2 linked regions of the Homo sapiens genome follow. The protein of the gene in region 2 interacts with the protein of the main gene of each other region in a pairwise test. Each region holds a gene or a part of one and is shown on either strand. Other genes may lie near its edges.

Evidence for each region. The genes of interacting proteins can lie anywhere in the genome.
Region 1: the proteins of DAPP1 (region 2) and RBP7 interact in a two-hybrid assay, tested with the Homo sapiens proteins (one large-scale study listed by BioGRID and IntAct).

What each region holds. Positions count from the first base shown.
Region 1 is NC_000001.11:9,996,065-10,000,027, forward strand, and holds the start of RBP7 (retinoid-binding protein 7), read left to right. Parts: upstream 1-1,163; 5' UTR 1,164-1,194; coding exon 1,195-1,267; intron 1,268-1,617; coding exon of another isoform or gene 1,618-1,966; exon of another isoform or gene 1,967-2,025; intron 2,026-3,963. Other genes in the region: translation initiation factor IF-2-like, read right to left, coding at 655-788, 1,618-1,966. UniProt on the Homo sapiens protein: Intracellular transport of retinol.
Region 2 is NC_000004.12:99,819,827-99,823,326, reverse strand, and holds part of DAPP1 (dual adapter for phosphotyrosine and 3-phosphotyrosine and 3-phosphoinositide), read right to left. Parts: intron 1-3,500. UniProt on the Homo sapiens protein: May act as a B-cell-associated adapter that regulates B-cell antigen receptor (BCR)-signaling downstream of PI3K.

The sequences.
Region 1 (3,963 bases), on a different chromosome or scaffold from region 2:
ACTTTGGGAGGCCAAGGCGGGCGGATCACAAGGTCATGAGATCGAGACCATCCTGGCTAACACGGTGAAACCCCGTCTCTAATAAAAATATAAAAAGTTAGCCGGGCGTGTTGGCGGGCGCCTGTAGTCCCAGCTACTCGGGAGGCTGAGGCAGGAGAATGGCGTGAACCCCGGAGGCGGAGCTTGCAGTGAGCCGAGATCTCTCCACTGCACTCCAGCCTGGGCACAGAGCGAGACTCCGTCTCAAAAAAAAAAAAAAAAAGAAAAAAGAAAGAGTGAGACTCTGTCTCAAAAGAAAAAAAATAAAAATAAAATCAATAAGTCAGTCTTGGAGCCAGCATATCTAGGCGGTGTTTGTGGCTAATGTTGTAGGTTAGCCCATATTCCCACCCCTTCTCCTTTGCTTTTCTCTGCTCTGAGGCTAAATGCTGCAGACTAGAATCCCCAGGCCCCCTTGCAGTTAGAAGTGGCATTGATACAGTTTTGGCTAATGAAATGTACACAGAAACCTGCTGGGTAATTTCTTTTCTTTTTTCCAACTATCCAGACTTATAGGAGATGGGGAGGTTTGTGCTGCAGGGATACTGACCTTTGGTGCTTTCCCTCTTCCCTACCTTGAATGTGGATGTCCTGGCTGGGAACCCAGCTGCCAGCTCATGACCAGGAGGTAACAAGCAGGAATAAAAGGCCACCAGAGTCACAGAGACGAAGCTGCGGCGTTACCGAGGTGCGAATCACTGTGATTCCTAGGTGCGAATCATCACCAGCAATCACTTCTCTCAGGACTCCTTGTTAAGAAAAATAAACTCCTATTTATTGAGACCATGAGAGTTACGTTGAGAGGTATATTGTTATTGAAGCTGACAATATTCAATGCCATGAGTTTGAAGATCATCCCTGGGTCATTAACATATAAGCAGGGAAGAAAATGTGGCCCGAAACAGTCTGGGACATGAGAAAGCAGTAGGAGAGGAAGCCCCAAGGAAAGGGGGAAGCTGCCGCGCGGTGGGCAGAGCCAGGAGCACCGGGCTGAGGCGGCCGGGAGCGCAGCGGCTTCTAGGGGTGAGTGGGACCCACGCGGCCCCACCTGCTCCTCCCGCGCGCGGCCCCACCCCCCTGCCCCGCCCCGCCTGGTTTATAGGTCCCGGCCCGAGCCTCCGGCCGCCCGCCGGGTTTGTCCCGCGATCCCCGACCATGCCCGCCGACCTCAGCGGTACTTGGACCCTGCTCAGCAGCGACAACTTCGAGGGCTACATGCTGGCCCTAGGTAAGGCGGAGGGGAGGCGGCGGCGGCGCGAGGCTCGCCGTGGGTCTCGGGATCAGGCGAAGGCGGCCGGGCCGGGCCTGTAGGTACGTCCTCTGTCCGTGCCTCCGCCCTGCTGCGCCCACCGTCGCCCAGTCGCCCCCGAGTCCGCTGGTCCTTGGCGCCTCCGTCCATCGGGCGCGGGACCCCAGTCCTTCAGTCCCCCAGTCCGTCCTTTCCCGCGCCCACCCGCCCCCCTGTCCCCACGGCCGTCTCTCCACGCCCTCTGTTCCCCCGGCCGTCGGTCCCCCACCCGTCCGTCCCTGAGTGCCCGCGTCCAGCCCCACGTCCGTCTCTACCCGCACGCGGCACACCTGCGGAGACTGCAGACTCGGGGTCCGGCCGGGGAGGGGGGTCCGGCCGGGGAGGGGGCGCCCGGGACCGAAGCCTCTGCCCGGCCACCCTCCCCGCAGCCGCCTTCCGTGCAGGCCCCGGGGCCCCGGGCGCGCTCCCGCAGCGAAGTCCCAGCAGCCTCGGCGCACCCGGAGCGGGTCGGGGATGCAGAATCCTGGAGCCAGCGGACGACCCTTCAGGTCCGGGCACCCGCGGGAGTGCAGAGCCTGGTTCGGCCCGGGGCGTGCCCCGACCGCCGCCTCCCACGAGGGCTGGGTGCCCGCGGCGTTCTTGCTCCCGGGGGCCCCGCGCTGTGCTTCCCGCCCTCATCGCGGTGCCAACGGTGCGCGGACTCTCAACTCACTGCAACCTCCGCCTCCTCGGTTCAAGCGATTCTCCTGCCACAGCCTTCCAAGTAGCTGGGATTACACGCGTGCGCCAGCCACCACGTCCGGCTAATTTTGTACTTTTAGTAGAGAAGGGGTTTCACTATATTGGTCAGGCTGGTGTCCAACTCCTGACCTCAGGTGATCCACCCGCCTTGGCCTCCCAAAGTGCTGGGATTACAGGTGTGAGCCACGCGCCCTGCCACGAGTGTAGTTTTTCTTGTAGCTTTAGGAATCTGGGAAGTTGCCGTGCCGGCCAATCCCTGAACCCTTGACCCGTGGGCAATTTTTGTTTTCTTTTTTTCTTTCTTTCTTTCTTTCTTTTTTTTTTTTTTTTTTGAGACGGAGTCTCGCTCTGTTGCCCAGGCTGGAGTGCAGTAGTACGATCTCGGCTCACTGCAAGCTCCGCCTACCGGGTTCACGCCATTTTCCTGCCTCAGCCTCTCCGAGTAGCTGGGACTATAGGCGCCCGCCACCACGCCCAGCTAATTTTTGTATTTTTTAGTAGAAACGGGGTTTCACCATGTTGGCCAGGCTGGTCTCGAACATCTGCCCTCGTGATCTGCCCACCTTGGCCTCCCAAAGTGCTGGGATTACAGGCGTGAGGCACCGCACCGGCCAATTTTTGTTTTCTTAACCTTAGGGCCCATCTTAGTTGATAAAGGGGCATTTATTTTGCTCTTTCATATCCCAAGAGATAAGAGTGTTCCTCTGGGTATGGGAAAAGCACCTCTCACTTGAGAGTCTTATGATCTTCTTCAGAGGAAGAGCAGAGAATTCTTTTATGGCCTGCTTCAGGGAAGAGGGGCAAAAGAAGGTCTGAGGGGGACCTTCCTGCTACTGTTATTTCCTCAAATGCCAAGTGATATGGTTTGGCTGTGTCCCCACCCAAATCTCATGGGAGTTGTAGTTCCCATAATTCTCATGTGTTGTGGGAGGGACCTGAGGAGAGGTAATTGAATCATGGGGTAGTTTTCCCCACACTGTTCTGGTGGTAGTGAATGTCTCATGAGATTTGATGGTTTTACAAGGGGTTTCCCCTTTCATTTGGCTCTCATTCTCTCTTGCCTGCCACCATGTAAGACGTGCCTTTTGCCTTCTGCCATGATTTTGAGGCTTCCCCAGCCACGTGGAACTGCGGCAGTTAAACCTCTTTTTCTTTATAAGTTACCCACTCTTGCCAGGCTCGGTGGCTCACGCCTGTAATCCCAGCACTTTGGGAGGCTGAGGCGGGTGGATCAACTGAGGTCAGGAGTTCAAGACCAGCCTGGCCAACATGGTGAAACCCCGTCTCAACTAAAAATACCAAAAAGAAATTAGCTGGGCATGGTGGCGGGCGCCTGTAATCCCAGCTACTTTGGGAGGCTGAGGCAGGAGAATCACTTGAACCTAGGAGGCAGAGGTTGCAGTGAGCTGAGATGGTGCCATTGCACTCCAGCCTGGGCAACAAGAGTGAAACTCTGTCTAAAATAATAATAATAATAAGTTACCCACTCTTGGATATGTCTTTATCAGCAGCGTGAAAATGGACATAAGGTGCCATGTTCTGAGGTCGCCTATCCAGAAACCCTTAAATCCAGAACGGTTTTCTGAAAACCAGCAACTGTGTTTCAACTTCAGATCTAATTTGTTAAAGTACTAAGTACTTACATCAATTTGTTAAAGTGCTAAGTACTTAGGTCACACTTATAGCACTAGAGTGGTTGTTTACATAATACTGTAATACTCTTTTTTTTTTTTTTTTTTTTTTAGATGGAGTCTGGCTCTATTGCCTAGGCTGGAGTGCAGTGGCGCGATCTCGGTGTGAGCCACTGTGCCCAGCCATAATACTATAATACATTTTATCTTAAGAATTAAGTTGGTCTGGGTGCAGTGGCTCACACCTGTAATCCCAGCACTTTGGGATGCTGAGGCAGGTGGATCATGAGGTCAGGAGTTCAA
Region 2 (3,500 bases):
ATTACTATTATTTTCAACTATTTATTATAAATAAATTCAGATATACTGGAAAGTAGAAAAATAGCATCAATGTTACTGCATTGAAATAATACCCATATTTCAGGTAGAATAATTTTTAACCTTTTGCCACATTTTTAATACAACGTTTAATTTTGACTCTTTCGATGAACAGTTTTAAAGTAAATTACAGATATCCTGACACTTTAACCCTAAATAATTCAACATGCATCTCTCAAAAGTGACATTCTTTTACATAATCATCATACTGTTATTAAAACAAGTGATTACTCTTACACTTTTTAAAGTTATAAACATTTTTAAACAAAGAAGGTCTAACAACAGATAATGGGGGCAGGTGCTAGTGGGCAGGGTCAGGGGAAGCATGACCATAAAGAAGCAAGTGGTGAGCAGCGAACACTGATAAGGCCCAGCAGTGTTCACTGTGCTCTTGGTAGAGGCAGGCCTCTATCAGGCAGTAGGACACAGAGGTCGATGGGCTCAGAATAGGAATTTATCCTCTACGGGAGTTGGTAGGAGCCAGAAATTAATGCAGGTTTTAACAAAATATCTAAGAGTATGGTCATGAAAACAGAAGTACAAGAGAAAAGCCAAGTTGAAGCTTCTCATAGGATGAGATGGATAGAGGTAGAGACCAGAACCAGACCACCAGAATGCTGACAAACCAGATGGGTCTTGGGGACTGGGTGGGTCTGAGTTCATGTGAGCTTTTTCAATTCTGAATCCTTGCATATTTTGCTACCATCACTCCTTTATTCAGGCCATTTTCTCTGTAGAAAATTTCACCTTTTCTAACTTCAACTGACAAAAATCATATCAGCTCCAAGGCCATCTTCTCCACTTCTACTGTGGAGAAGATAGCCTTCCATAGGAGATTGTTTTATCTAGACACTGTCACAGCCCTCAGCCCACACAACACTGCATTCTAACTCTACATGCATATGAATCCTCCATCTCTGCACAGCCATGCCTTCTTTATTGTAGTCTCCTCTATGCTGCCTTGCCTGGCGTCATCATACAACAGATAGATCTATGACCCAGTAGAAGAGTGAATGAATGAAACAAAGTGACTCCCCACAACATGGACAGTCTGTGGGACAGATTTCCACTTGTAAGTAGAAGGAAGTCACCCTTTGGAGGAACAGAAAAACACCACAACTGAAGAGGAAATTCACTTGAGTTATGAAGAGATGGAACTGTACACTAGTTACATACTAATTATACAACCACAGAAGAACCACCTTCCGTTTTTAGAATCCAAGATTACAGAGCTGTGCACAGAAGAGGAACAAGCTGTATTGCTGTAGTTAGTGTCACACCGCTGTAAACAGGTTCCACTGAAATTTTGACTTTACGTTTCTTAGCTGAATAAATTTTTCTAGTCCTGAAAATGAATTCTACACAAAATTCAATAATGTTCTGATTAACTAGAATGCTGGCCTGGCTTTGTGTACATGTGCATGTATATTATGTGAGGAATAGAAAGAATAATGTCTTTTATAGTAAACTTTGTTATAATCACAGAACTTTCTTTGCTTCTCTCAGTTCATATTAAGAACTATGAACATGTACTAGTATAGTAAGATGAGAGAAATTTGATGAAAACCAGGAGGTTACATCAGCAGTCAAGCATGAAGGCTCTGGAGCAAAACTCTTGGATTTGAAGGTATGTTAGAATGGAAACTTAAGCATGTGATTAAAACTCTGTTCTTTACTTTTCTCATCTATAAATGGGGACAACATTAGTAATAATACCCACCTCACAGCAATGTGTAAATTAAACAAGTTCACATGGGCAAAGGGCTTAAACTAGTGCTTAGCACATGATAAGCATCCAATAATTACTAATTGCCATTACTAGAATACATACCTTTGACCAGTGGGCTCTACAAAGCAGCACCATGCAGTGGAAAGCTCTGGGGTAAGTTCCTAGGTGTGTCTCTCAGCTCCACTACTTACAAAGTCTGTGACCTGGATCGTATACTTAGCTTATTGAAGTCACCTTTTGCGTCTATGAAATGAGTATGGTGATATCGTATTGAAAGTGTTATTGTGAAGCCTAAATGGCATTATGCGTGTGAATGGTATGGTGCTGATGCATAGTAGGTGGTCAGTAAATTAGGACTATCACAGCAGGGAAACAACCTGGTTTGTGAAGTCAGCATGGGTTTTGAACACAGACACTCAGAGACTGTAGGCAACCTGATTTTTCTGCTCTTGAGTCTCTTCCTGTGTAAAGCTGGAATACCAGTGCCTTTCAAAGACCAGAGCTGGTGTCTACAAAATGCCTGCCTTATAATACGGACTCATTTTGTTTATTATCATTTATTCCGTGGGTCAGCAAACCACCAGCTGAGGGTTAATTCCTGTCAGACACCTGTTTTAGTATGGACTGGGAGCCAAGAATGGCTGTACATTTTGAAATGCTTGAGGGAAATAGAAAAATATTCATAAAAATTATATGAAATTCACATTTCAGTGTATAAATAACGTTTTGTTTGAACACCATCACGGTCATTTGTTTCTGTGTTCTCTGGTAGTTTTTGCACAACAGCAGATGTGAGTAGTTGAGGTAGAGACTGTAAGGCCTGCAAAGCCTAAAACATTCGTTACCCGGCCCTTTATAAAAAAAAGGTTTGCTGCTCCATGGTCTACTCTAAACTTCTCTTATATGTGACTAATTAGTTATCAATTTATTTAAATATTCAGAGCTTGGAATCTAGTTCTTTGGCACTGGCCAATCCAGCCAAACACTGGCACTTTCTTATACAACTTTCGATTTGAGAAAGTATTTAAAAAAGAGAACGTTTATTATGTTTCTCACTTGGAGTTACAACTGACTAGATCATTTGAATATTTAATTTTAAAGTATGCTAAAACACTTTCATTTTGTTATTTCTTTTGTGTTTATACATATATATAGCTATATGTAGAAATAGTATAGTAACCTTTGTTAAAGCCAAAGAATTGCTGGAATTTTCAGTAATTTAACTAGCTATTCTTTACCAGTTTGTTACTTAGGTGATATCTCCAGTATTTGTTACTTGTTTTATTTTGCCATATTTTCATTTTGCAAGCAGCAAACAGCCTGACCCATCTCCTCGTTCATGGTCCACCTCCTTCCTCTCCCCTGATTCTCCACACCCTCACTTCTTGCCCTCCCCACACCTCTCTTCCCCCTAAGCCCATACCCTCCCCTGAGAAGTGTAAGCGAAGCTGAGCAACAATTTAAGATGGTTTTATTTCTCCTTTGCTTCTGGACACATTAATGTATTTTAGATGAAAGAAAATTAATGATTTTAGGCTGACACTCTATAAATGAGACATGGAAAAGCACTGTGTTGCTTGATTTAGGTATTTTAGAAAATAATAAACCTGTACTCTGAGCAAGTTGTATATGTCCTGGAAAGGCAAGTGATGGATTTGCTGCAGTTCAGGGCTCAATTTACAGGATTTACATATTCCAGAGCCTGAAAAAAACA